3 linked regions of the Homo sapiens genome follow. The protein of the gene in region 2 purifies or fractionates together with the protein of the main gene of each other region. This does not show direct contact. Each region holds a gene or a part of one and is shown on either strand. Other genes may lie near its edges. The genes, in order: GINS2, EIF5A2 and GINS1.

Region 1 (4,024 bases), on a different chromosome or scaffold from region 2:
TCAGCCATTTAAAGTATACAAGTTTTGAGGTGGGTGGATCACGAGGTCAGGAGATTGAGACCAACCTGGCTAACACGGTGAAACCCAGTCTCTACTAAAAATACAAAAACAAAATTAGCCGAGCGTGGTAGCGGGCGCCTGTAGTCCCAGCTACTTGGGAGGCTGACGCGGGAGAATGGTGTGAACCCAGGAGGTGGAGCTTGCAGTGAGCCGAGATCGCACCACTGCACTCCAGCCTGGGCGACAGAGCGAGACTCTGTCTCAAAAAAAAAAAAAAAGTATACAAGTTTTAGTAGCACTTGTGGGCTATTAAAAACAAAGTGTACAAGTCAATGGTGTTTAGTATATTCAGACTTGGGCAACCATTACCTCCATCAATCCCAATTTTCATCATGCCAAAAAGAAACTCCACAATCCCTCCATCACCCAAAGCAAGACCCCCATACTTAAGCAACTACTAATCTACATTGTCTCTATTGATTTGCCTATTCTAGACAGTTGATAGAAATGGAATGATACAGTGTGCGGCCTTTTGTGCCTGGTTTCTTTCATTCAGCAAGATCTTTAAGATGTTTCAGGTTCATCCACGCAGTAGCATGTATCAGAATTCCATTCCTTTTTATAGCTGAATAATATTCAACCTTATTGTGATATATTATTTTCATGCATTCTCTATAACTGCTTCTCAACATGCTAATCTATACTTATTTTTAAAATTTTAAAACAAATGCTTATTTAAGGTCATATATTTATTTTAAAGCAAATTGAAATATCTTACATTAAAATATAGGCTGGGCACAGTGGCTCACGCCTATAATCCCAGCAGATCTGCCAAGGTGGCCAGATCGCTTGACCCCAGGAGTTTGAGACCAGCCTGGGCAGCATGGCAAGACCCCATCTCTACAAAAACGCAAAAATTTGCAGGGTGTGGTGGCGCACGCCAGTGGTCCCAGCTACTTGGGAGGCTGAGGCAGGAGGATCACTTGAACCCAGGAGGTGAAGGCTGCATTGAGCCGAGATTGCACCACTGCTCTCCAGCCTGGGTGATGGAGTCAGACCCGTCTCAAAAAACAAACTACAACTTTCACACACACCAAAACCTAACATGACATTACTAACAGTGGTTAGCAGACTCTGCTGAGAGGTGAATCTGGAAGTATTCCTTTCAGCTGATCAGTAGATAACGGAACAGAGGGAGCACGGACCTAGTCAGGAAGGAGGCCCCATGCCTCCACCCCGTGGGAGAGGGCGTCACCCCAAGCCCAGCCCCACCCACGCATCAACCAGTCTCCACCACATCCTTACCTACATCCATCCACTCTGGAGGGAGCAGGCGACATTTCTGTCTTTGTTTCAGGTTAATCGCCAGCCACAGGGGCACTTCCACGGGTAAACCAGGGTTAAAAGGCCCCAGGTCCCCCTGCCAAAAGTAAAACAATTCCCCGTAAGATTGAAAAAGAACAAAAAAAGCATTACTGTGCGTTACTGCTATCAAATAAGAGGCAAGGCATTGCAGAGGCTGAAGTCCAAATGCAAATAATAAAAACCCAACTGTTACCAGACTCAGAACAAAGCGCCTCCTGAGCGGCTCCGAGACACCTGCGAGCGTGGGGCTCAGTCCTTCTGGCCTTTCCGCGGACAGGATGCAAGTCTCCCCTGAGTGGGTGGGGGGCGCTCCCTCTCCCGCCTGCACCCTCCAACTCCGGAACAGGTTTCACACACCCAATGTTGGGGTCCTGGGGTGCGGGGAGGTGGGTCTGGGCAGGTACAGAGCCTGCCCTCCTTCTCCAGGACTCCCAGCGCCGAGGCGCCTCCCTCATACTGAAAACGCAAAGCCGGGCGGGCGCGGGGGCTCACAATCCAGCTACTCGGGAGGCTGAGGCAGGAGAATCACCTGAACCCGGGAGGCGGAGGCCGCAGTGAGCCGAGATCGCGCCACTGCATTCCCGCCCGGGCGATAGAGCGAAACTCCATCTCAAAGATAAAGACAAAAACAAACAGAGGCAAAGCCGACTTTTGCCCATAATCCCAGCCCTTTGGGAGGCCGACGTGGGAGGATCGCCTGGGGAGCCCAGGAGTTCGAGGCCAGCCGCATCTCTACCAAATAAATAAGCCGGGCGCAGTGGCTCCCGCCTGTCATCCCAGCACTTTGGGAGGCCGAGGCGAGTGGCTCATGAGGTCAGGAGTTCGAGACCAGCCTGGCCAACACGGTGAAACCACATCTCTACCAAAAATACAAAAATGCGCCGGGCGTGGTGGCGGGCACCTGTAACAGCAGCTACTCAGGAGGCTGAGGCAGGAGAATCGCTTGAACCCGGGAGGCGGAGGCTGCAGTGAGCCGAGACGGCACCACTGCACTCCAGCCTGGGCGACAGAGTGACACTCCACCTCAAAAACCAAAAAACAAACCAAAAAAGCCCCCAAACAGATCAAAAAAACCCTGTAAACCCGGGCGTTCGGGGCACTGGCAAAGAGCGCAGTCTCGCTTTCCTCATCCGAGAAGCGGGAACGGCGGTGAGCGAGTCAAGCGCCGAGTGGTGGCCTCCGCAGATGCGGGAGCAGGGCGAGCCCGCGACCCCGGGGCTGAAGGCCACGCGGGAGCCCCGGACGCGCCCAGCCCGGCCTCCCCTCCCCACGGCGGGCCCAGGCCTCACCCCGATGAGGTAGATCTTGTCCAGACTGAAGTTGGGGATAATGGTAACCAGCTCCTTCTCGGCGAGGAATTCGACCTCGGCAGCGTCCATGGCGGCGCGAGCTGCAGGCCAGAGCCTCACGGTCTCCTCGGGCCCCTCAGCGTCCCGGAGGAGACGCCGCGGCCGCCGTTTTCCCGCCACGGCGAGAGCCCGCCCCGGCCGGAAGACGGCCTGCGCCAGCCTATAGGAAGGCGGTAGACAGCCTATAGGCGCTGTCTGCGGGCGGGGGGGCGGAGACCGCGCTCGCGAAGAGCCCGCGGATTGGCAAGGCCGAGGGAGGCTGCGCGCCGGCCCCGCCCCGGCCCGCGGACAGGCCCCGCCCCCACCCCGGCCCCGCCCCGCCCGTGGGCGTGCACCTGGCGCTGTCAGGATCTCCTGCCGCGGGCGCCAGCTTTGGTGTCCCTTCACCTGTCCCCGGCGCCCGCCGCAAACGGCCCTAATCAAGAGCCGGGGGTGGGGTTCCGGGCCGCTTCTACGCCGGCGTTCCGCATGGGGCCAAGAGTAAACGCATTTATTTTATTTTAATTTTTAAACAACTTTTCGTGGATTTGGGATCTTGCTGTGTTGCTCAGGCTGGTCTTGAACTTCCGGTCTCCAGCGATCCTCCCATCTCGACTTCCCAAAGTGCTGGGATTACAGGTGGGAGCCATCGTGCCAGGCCAAGAGTACAAGCATTTATTGGCCCAAACTCAGCACCGGGCCCGGGACTAGGCATCACCCGGGCTGACAGATAGAGGGATGAGGGAAGACCTTGTTTCCATTAATTTCACAATCTTCTGCCCTCTCTGCACACATTGTTTAAAACAGCTGTAAAAATGCAGATTCCTCCATCCCACCCCACAGCTTCCAATTCGGACACTTCAGAGCAGGAGCTCAGAATTTGCACTTCGGCAGGAGCCCCACATGAGACAGGAGCGGCAGGTTTGCACCACCTGAGCAAATACTCACCTGCTCGCTGGACCGGCTGCCCCTGTACAGTGGGCGCAGGTGAAGCCAGAGCGGTGGCTGGAGCTCACCTGTGTCAGAATCCCCTAGCGGGTGCCCATTGTCTGTGTGCACGCTCCTGGGAGTTGGGATTCCGGAGTCGTGGAAAGGACAGAAAGCTGAATTTCATCCAGGGCCAGGTGATTTTGATGGGGTGGTCATGGCCGGAAAAGCTTCCTGGGGGTGAAGCGCTATTCTAGGACTGCAGTCGAATTTGAAACCTTGATAATTAGGCCCGCGAGAAAAATCACAGGAGACATGAGGATTCCAGGGTTTGGAATTCCAGCAGAAAGCACCCCCTGCCCCCGCCCCAGCTAACCGGATGCTCTCCTCTCCAACCTCCCTGA
Region 2 (3,946 bases):
ACTTCTTTTACTGCCCAACTTTGCGTTGTGGATCTGGTAGATTATGGATATTTGTAATGATCATAGATACAAGGTGACAACTGCCATGGTATCTCTGGCATGGCTCACCTGTTGGGGAGCAAGAGGGATGTTCTAGAATGGTACAGTGTATAAGGAAGAAACCACCGAGCCACCTAGAAATGAACATGTCCAGTTGGTGTGGATTAGACATGGTGAGGATTGGCAAAAGGGTGAAGCGTTTGCTTCAGGGAATTATCACACCACTCATGTTGTGGAAAGGGAAAAGCAACCCCAGCTTGTAGGAAAGAAACACCTCACACCCTGGGAAATCAGGGGTGAGGGAAGTAGCATTGCCCTCTCCTACATTAAATATCTCTGGAAGGACACATAGGAAGGGGATGAAGAGGGGAAAATGTCTTTAGTCTTTTGTACCTGCTGAATTTTGAACCAAGTGACTATTTTATATAGTTTAAAAAACATTAAACATTTAAAAATAAAATTGTACCTAAACCTCAAACTAAAATTTAGAAATTAATAGTCCCAGTCATAATGCGAGGGCACTACGTAAGGACCTAGAATATAAAAGTACTCAATAAAAACAAGTTAGATTTTCTTTTAAAGTGACATACGCTTAAGTCATACAATTTTTGGGTATGAAATTGTTTTAAAGATGTATATGTACAAGAATAGTGCAAGCTGTTAACTATTTTTATTTAATACAACTGATGAAGTTAACAGACAAATATATTTTAATAATATCACAAAGTTATAATTGTTAAGGTATTATCTATATTTAAAGGTTTTTTAAGTCAAAGACTTAACATTTGAATTTTAACTATTTTTGAAATGTAAAATGTACAATTAGTAATACCCATACTACGTATTTTAGAATTTTAAAGTTTTAGCGAAAACATTTGAGTTTCTGCAGGTAAAAGCAATAGTTCTCCTGTATCTAAGAAAAAAAAATGTATTACTAAAAAAGTGCCACTGAATTTAGACAATGCTAAACTGTTTCCTTTTTGGGGAGGAAGACAAAAGTACATAACAGTATAGAACTAGTCATTTTCATTATACTAGTATAGAACTAGTAATTTGCATTATGCTTTGTAACAAGCACAAGAATGCTTATTTATAGTAGATATTAACCACAATAAATAACTCCTCAAAAAAGATCACAACTATGATGTGTGACAAGCTGTTCGGTCATTGCTGAAAATAGTCCAGAGTTTTTTAAAAAGTGCAATCTTGAACTAAGATAAACTTAAGTCTATCAATACCAAGAAACAGTTTTAGGGACTTCATATAAATACAATAACCTGTCTTTTTTTTTTTTTTTTTTTTTTTGTAAAATAGGTTTCTACCTGTTCTAAGGAGGAGAATAGTGGTAGATGGCAAAGTTGGCAACAAGTATGTTTCTAGCAGGTGAAAGCCTGGTATGCATTGCCATAAAGTGCATCTTTTACATAAGGAAAACATGCTTATTAGATGTATACAGTACTTTTCAGGCACTTGACCTCACTTGGTAGCTAAGTTGGTGTTCAGATGTTTGTTTAATGGAAAAACATTAAATTACATATTGGCTTCAAGCCATGTTCCCATAGAACATCTGTGTTTCATAAGCTAAATCCAAATGTTCCCTGCTAAAATCAAATAATGATGCCATATACCCAATTCAGAGAAAAAATTTAATAGATTAAATAGATTGAATTGTCTCAATTTTTAAGGTTTTCCACCATAAATTTTTCTTAAATCTTTGTTGCCTGTTACTTGTCTGAATGTTAGCAGAAAAAAAAGGCTTGAAAACTATGAAATATTATGCCTAACTGATGTTAAAATGAGAGCTGCTGATCAGTACAATATACTGTTAATGGAAATATGCTTATATTTTCACTCTTACACTGCTTAAGAGCCATATTTTCTCATAGTAAATGCGTTCCTAGTTCATATTACAGAATTCAGTATGTAAACATTTCAGTGTACCCAAAAAAGCATTATGAATTTATCTATTATCCCTAAATATGTTTGGTGAACCTCTACATCAATGCCTGGCTCCAAAACTATCTCTGGGGTCCATGCCAAAGGAATGCTTTCAGATGTATCCTAAGGATAGGATTCTAAGATGAGACTGCCAAAATCTATTCTAAAATGAAAAAAATATGGCAAGATTCCAGTATGGATGCTACTGTTTCCATTTTTTTCTTGACTATTTAGCATGTAGTTTAAGTGTGTTGACATTAAGGATTTTTTTATATGCATGTATCACAGTTATTACAATTTGGGAAAATTCTGCCAATATATTTTCAGGCAATTAGCTTTAAAATAATGAAATTTCAGCTTTTAGCACAAATAGCCCTGAGAACAATGCATTCAAATTACAGCTCAACTAGAAATATTCTAATTGAGAAACCTTAAAGTACAAAAACAAGTTGTGGAAAGTTGTAAATTTAAAAAAAAAAAGTTACCAACAGTTGAGGCACCAACAGACTACAATACTTTTAAGAGTTGGGAGTTTGGAAAAAAGAACTAACATATAAAGTTATGTGCGCACATGTGCACATGCAAATTGCATTGTAATGAAAAATTGTGTCTCCAAATTTTACAGCCTAATCATTTTATTGCAGTATCTCCTATTATAGATATCATGCTCTGATGCAGGAGAGTTTTGGTAATTAACATAAAGCGCTGGTACAGAGACTTGTATCATTAAGGGAAACAGAGTCAAGAGCTTGGTTAGCAACAGTTTCTTCAAGTGACTGAGCCCCTGGAAGGGAGCATGAAAAAAACATCATAATTATGTTTATGATGCAAATGCTAAGTCAAAGTAGCAATGATATGATCTATGTTGTAGCAAATAAGGTATAACAAAGTCTTCACAGTATAAATAAAATGTTCTAAAAAGAAACAAATATTCAACCTGTTAATAAATTGGTGAAATGTATACAGATAAAAATGGCTTATCACTGTACAATGATATCAACATGACAGTCCACATTCTATACATGGTAACTCGTGATTTTTAACATTTGCTACAAAAAAGTACAACAAATATTGGGAATCAACTTTAACATTTCTGATGTCTAAAAAGAATGAAGTCACTTCTGTTCTATGTTAAAAAATACATGTTCCCCGCTTCCTTTTAATATAATTTATAAAGCTTTACTAAATATTTTGTTCTAGAGAAACATCTATTGACTTATGTGAAAATAAAGTCCCATATCTTTAAAATCTATACTTATATATCGAGTATTTACACTTCATATATTACTTAAAATGAAAATATTTATGCATAAATAGCGTTTGCCATTCAAAGTATGAAGATAGAGATGCATTATTATAATTTGTACACCCTTAATTTGTACACAATTGAAAATATATTTATGTGAAATTTTACAAGTTAGGAAGAACAGGGGCATGCTAATTGAGAGTTAATACTGAATCATAACACCAGCATGGTTAAGAGGGGCCATATGAATGAACTGCAAGCAGCACGGATTAATAATTTTCTGGAATTCCTATGAGTTACAATGCCAACCAGTAGCAATTAAGATACACATTACAGAGTACTAAGAAACTAGAGCAGTATGTAGTAGGTACTTAAATAGAATACTGGAAAGAATGTAGCCTAATTTTAATTGTGCTTTAGATGGGCAAAAGCTAAAATGTTGTAGGAAAGACGACTAACTACTACCTCACTATTTCTTGTGCTTTAGAAATTTCCTTTGTATTTCTCTTAAAGTATCTTGCTTCTTCCCCAAATTGGTTTGCCGAGGCTAAGACAATATTTAAAAGTGTGTACAAATTAAGCAACTAAAACTTGGGATCTTCTGTTACTAATGCTATTTCCAGTCACTGATTAGATCAGTTACATCATCATATATGATATACTTTCCTTTAGAAGATAGGAACAAAGGGCTTTTTAGAGGTCAAGGCATGATGGGAGAGGTCT
Region 3 (3,726 bases), on a different chromosome or scaffold from region 2:
GCCTGGAGTGCAATGGCACGATCTCCGTTCACTACAACCTCTGGCTCCCAGATTCAAGCAATTCTCCTGCCTCAGCCTCCCAAGTAGCTGAGATTAGGCACCCGCTACCACTCCCAGCTAATTTTTGTATTTTTAGTAGAGACAGGGTTTCACCATGTTGGCCAGGCTGGTCTCGAACTCCTGATCCCAGATGATCCACCCGCCTTGGCCTCCAAAATTGCTGGGATTATAGGCATGAGCCACTGTGCCTGGCCAAAGGTCCTTATTTCTAAGACAAAGAAAAAATAGTAAGAACACTACCGTATTCAGTAGTGAAAGACCGTGATGCACTTAAATAGTGTGGCACCAACAAGTGAAACACGATGAAAAAAATATGGCAAAATAATAAAAATTGTTAAAACCATATGATAGCTCCACTGGGGTTCATTATAGTATTATTCTCCCTACTTTTAAAAGTGTTGTGATTTTTCATAATAAAAAATTAAAAAAATGAAAACACAGAGGAAAAATTTAGAATGCTTACAAAGAGAGAGAGATCTAAGATTTCATGTTACCCATTTGAGATGGTCAACTGGGAAGCCACACAGAAAATCCTGCCACCCCAAGCAAAAACTGAGAAGCTTACAGGTATGCTACAGTGCAGCGTCGATTTCTTAACAGAGAACAGTGTCGAAATTTGATAGTTGGTATCAAATCACTTCGTCCACCTGACTTTGCTTCATTCCTGATAGGAGCATTTAAAAAGAAAAAAAATATGTACTTTTCAGGATAAGTAAAATTTTCAAAGCCAACTAACAACTGAGTTACATGCTTGTTTTTAATCCATTTGTGATTAGCAGTTAACCTAAGCAAATAATAACTATTTGTACATCAGAGCTTTTATTAATATGTTAAAAAGCCAAAACCTAAACAACTTGCCTAAGATCATGCTACCAGATACATTTTGTTTAGGCATTTGGTACTTTGCATTTTTGCACACTGATTAATCTCTATTCTTTCTAAAAGACACTGTGTTATTCACTTTTCAGGATTCCATTATCACGCTGAGATAAGAGACAAAGCTAACATGATGGACATGAGGTTATGGTCTTACGTCATGTCGCTATTCTACATAGTACCTCCCTTCCAGTGGAGCTTCCAAATCCTCATTATAACAAAGTGAGGTAAAATGGAGTCAAAATGGTCTTTCACTCATCTTACAAATATCTGTTGATCTCCAAATACGTGTACGTACTATACTTCAGTATTTCTCACACTGAAAATTTTGGTTTTACCCTATAAAAAGTACATGTAACTTTTGAATGAATAAGAATCTACTTTGGAGTTTTTAAGCAACCATATGCATATAAAAAGAATTCATTCATGTAGTGCCTGCCTCTATGCCAGGCACTGTGCTAGGCCCTGATAATACAGGCAAAATACATGTCCCATCCTGTCATGTCTTCTAGGGCTGTTCTATATACTTCTGCCACCCTATGAAAGTCTGATGAAACTAGGAAGGTGGAATAAAGAATTTTGGATCATGAATTTGCGAATGGCATAAACACAGAGAATACAAGAAAATCATTCCCTTACTGAACCAAGGCCTATAGGGTCTCCTCCAAAACATTTATAACCTTCTCACTTTCTACCAAGTCTGGGTCACCTCTCTAGTAACCTGGTGACCAGCTTCCCCCACCTCTCAGCCCCTCCACACAGCAACCAGCATTATCTTTTAAGACACAAACACACCACCACCTGTCCACACTTACACCTCATCTGGTGTCATCCTTTGCCACTTGCCAAACTCCAGCCACATAGGTCTTCTTTAAGTGTCAGTTTCTTGAGTGCCCCATTCTCTTCCATGATTCAGGGGCTTTTGCATATGCTGTTCCCTCCACCTAGAATGTTCTATGCCCACAGTCACTGCCTCCCTAAGACTTGCATCTCCTGCAGGCCTCAGCTGAAATGTCTCCTCTTTGGAGAGAAGTTCCCTGATTCCTCAATTTAAGCTAGACCTTCTATTCATTTTTCTTTCTCCTTGCACTCTTCTGATTTCCTTCATAGCATGAATCCCAATTTGGCATATCTATATTTCATGTCTGTCTTCTGCACTAGACAGTGAGCGCCAGGGACAGGCATCTTTTTTTTTTTTTTTTTTTTGAGATGGAGTTTCGCTATTGTTGCCCAAGCTGGAGTGCAATGACGCGATCTCGACTCACCACAACCTCCGCCTCCCAGGTTCAAGCGATTCTCCTGCCTCAACCTCCGGAGTAGCTGGGATTACAGGCATGCGCCACCACGCATGGCTAATTTTGTATTTTTCGTAGACAGGGTTTCACCATGTTGGTCAGGCTGGTCTCGAGCTCCTGACCTCAGATGATCCACCCGCCTCGGCCTCCCAAAGTGCTGGGACTACAGGCATGGGCCACACTGTGCCCAGCCCGGGAAAGCCATCTTGACTGTTGTTTACCACTGAAATAGCACAGCCACTTATTGATACATATTTGTTTAGTACATATTTGAGTAAATCAATGAATGGCTTAGGGACTTGAGTTCAGGACTTTAAATCTGCCTTATATTTACTGCAAATCTGTTGAGGTTCACTTCCTCAGTCCACCTGTAAAGATTTTTCTGTATCTCTCCTTATACACAGGAGTTGGAAATGCTCCTATCATTTTATGTGCCTCACAAATCTTACCAGCCATAACACTGATTTCTATATTCAAGTAACTGATAAAAACACTGTAGCGAACAAGCCCAAAGAGGAAACCTCATGTCACAGACAGTTGAGACCCTGAATACTTCAACTTTGATCCAGTACTTGACTCCCTTTGGTGTCGCACAGGAACATACGAAGTTTGTCATACGCCCAAATTCTCCACTGTGCCAGCTACCATGCTCAGTTCTAAAGAGTCAATAAATCTAGTCACCTCTCTGGACCTACTACACTGAAACCTTTTATAGCTAGTTCTCAGAGAACTCCACTCAAACTATCAGAAATCACTGCTGCTCCTATTTATATCCATTTAATAAACTGCCTATTCTTCCTTTAACAAACTCACTAAGGCAACTGTTGATAAAAATATAAACAGTGGGAACCATGTATTTCACTTTGTTAGGTTTTTATTTTTATTTATTATTTTTAAAGATGGAGATCTCCTTCTGTCACCCAGGCTAGGGTGCAGTAACGTGATCATAGCTCACTGCAGCCTCAAACCCCTGCACTCAAGCAAGCCTCTCACCTTACCCTGCTGAGTAGCTAAGACTCCAGGTGTGTGCCACCACACCCAGCTAATTTTTATTTTTTTAATAGAGACAGAGTCCTGCTATATGTCCAGGCTCCTGGCCTCAACTGATCCTTTTGCCTTGGCCTCCCAAAGCACAGGGATTTATAGCCATGAGCCACCGTGTCCAGCCTATTTTTATTTTTTATTTTAGGGTATGTCATTTATTTTAGGTCCACTCTAATTCCTTTCAACTCTTATCAGCCAAACAACAGATATTTATTAAGCAGTGATCAGCACAAATTTCTTCAGACTTTTGCTAATTTGTACAGCTAGAGCAGATAATTTTACAGATAATTTTTAAAAATCGCATCCCAAAACTAATGCAAGGTTATCTGATTTCAACATCTTTTTTTTTTTTTTTTTTTTTTTGGAGACAGAGTCTTGCCCTATCGCCAGGCTGGAGTGAAGTGGTGCAATCTCAGCTCACTGCAACCTCCACCTCCCGGGTACAAACAGT

What was found.
Region 1: the proteins of EIF5A2 (region 2) and GINS2 purify together in Homo sapiens (affinity purification with mass spectrometry; one large-scale study listed by BioGRID and IntAct). This does not show direct contact.
Region 3: the proteins of EIF5A2 (region 2) and GINS1 purify together in Homo sapiens (affinity purification with mass spectrometry; one large-scale study listed by BioGRID and IntAct). This does not show direct contact.

What each region holds. Positions count from the first base shown.
Region 1 is NC_000016.10:85,686,155-85,690,178, forward strand, and holds the start of GINS2 (DNA replication complex GINS protein PSF2), read right to left. Parts: upstream 2,801-4,024; 5' UTR 2,745-2,800; coding exon 2,655-2,744; intron 1,421-2,654; coding exon 1,306-1,420; intron 1-1,305. UniProt on the Homo sapiens protein: Required for correct functioning of the GINS complex, a complex that plays an essential role in the initiation of DNA replication, and progression of DNA replication forks.
Region 2 is NC_000003.12:170,887,728-170,891,673, forward strand, and holds the end of EIF5A2 (eukaryotic translation initiation factor 5A-2), read right to left. Parts: 3' UTR 691-3,946; downstream 1-690. UniProt on the Homo sapiens protein: Translation factor that promotes translation elongation and termination, particularly upon ribosome stalling at specific amino acid sequence contexts.
Region 3 is NC_000020.11:25,414,102-25,417,827, reverse strand, and holds part of GINS1 (DNA replication complex GINS protein PSF1), read right to left. Parts: intron 725-3,726; coding exon 626-724; intron 1-625. UniProt on the Homo sapiens protein: Required for correct functioning of the GINS complex, a complex that plays an essential role in the initiation of DNA replication, and progression of DNA replication forks.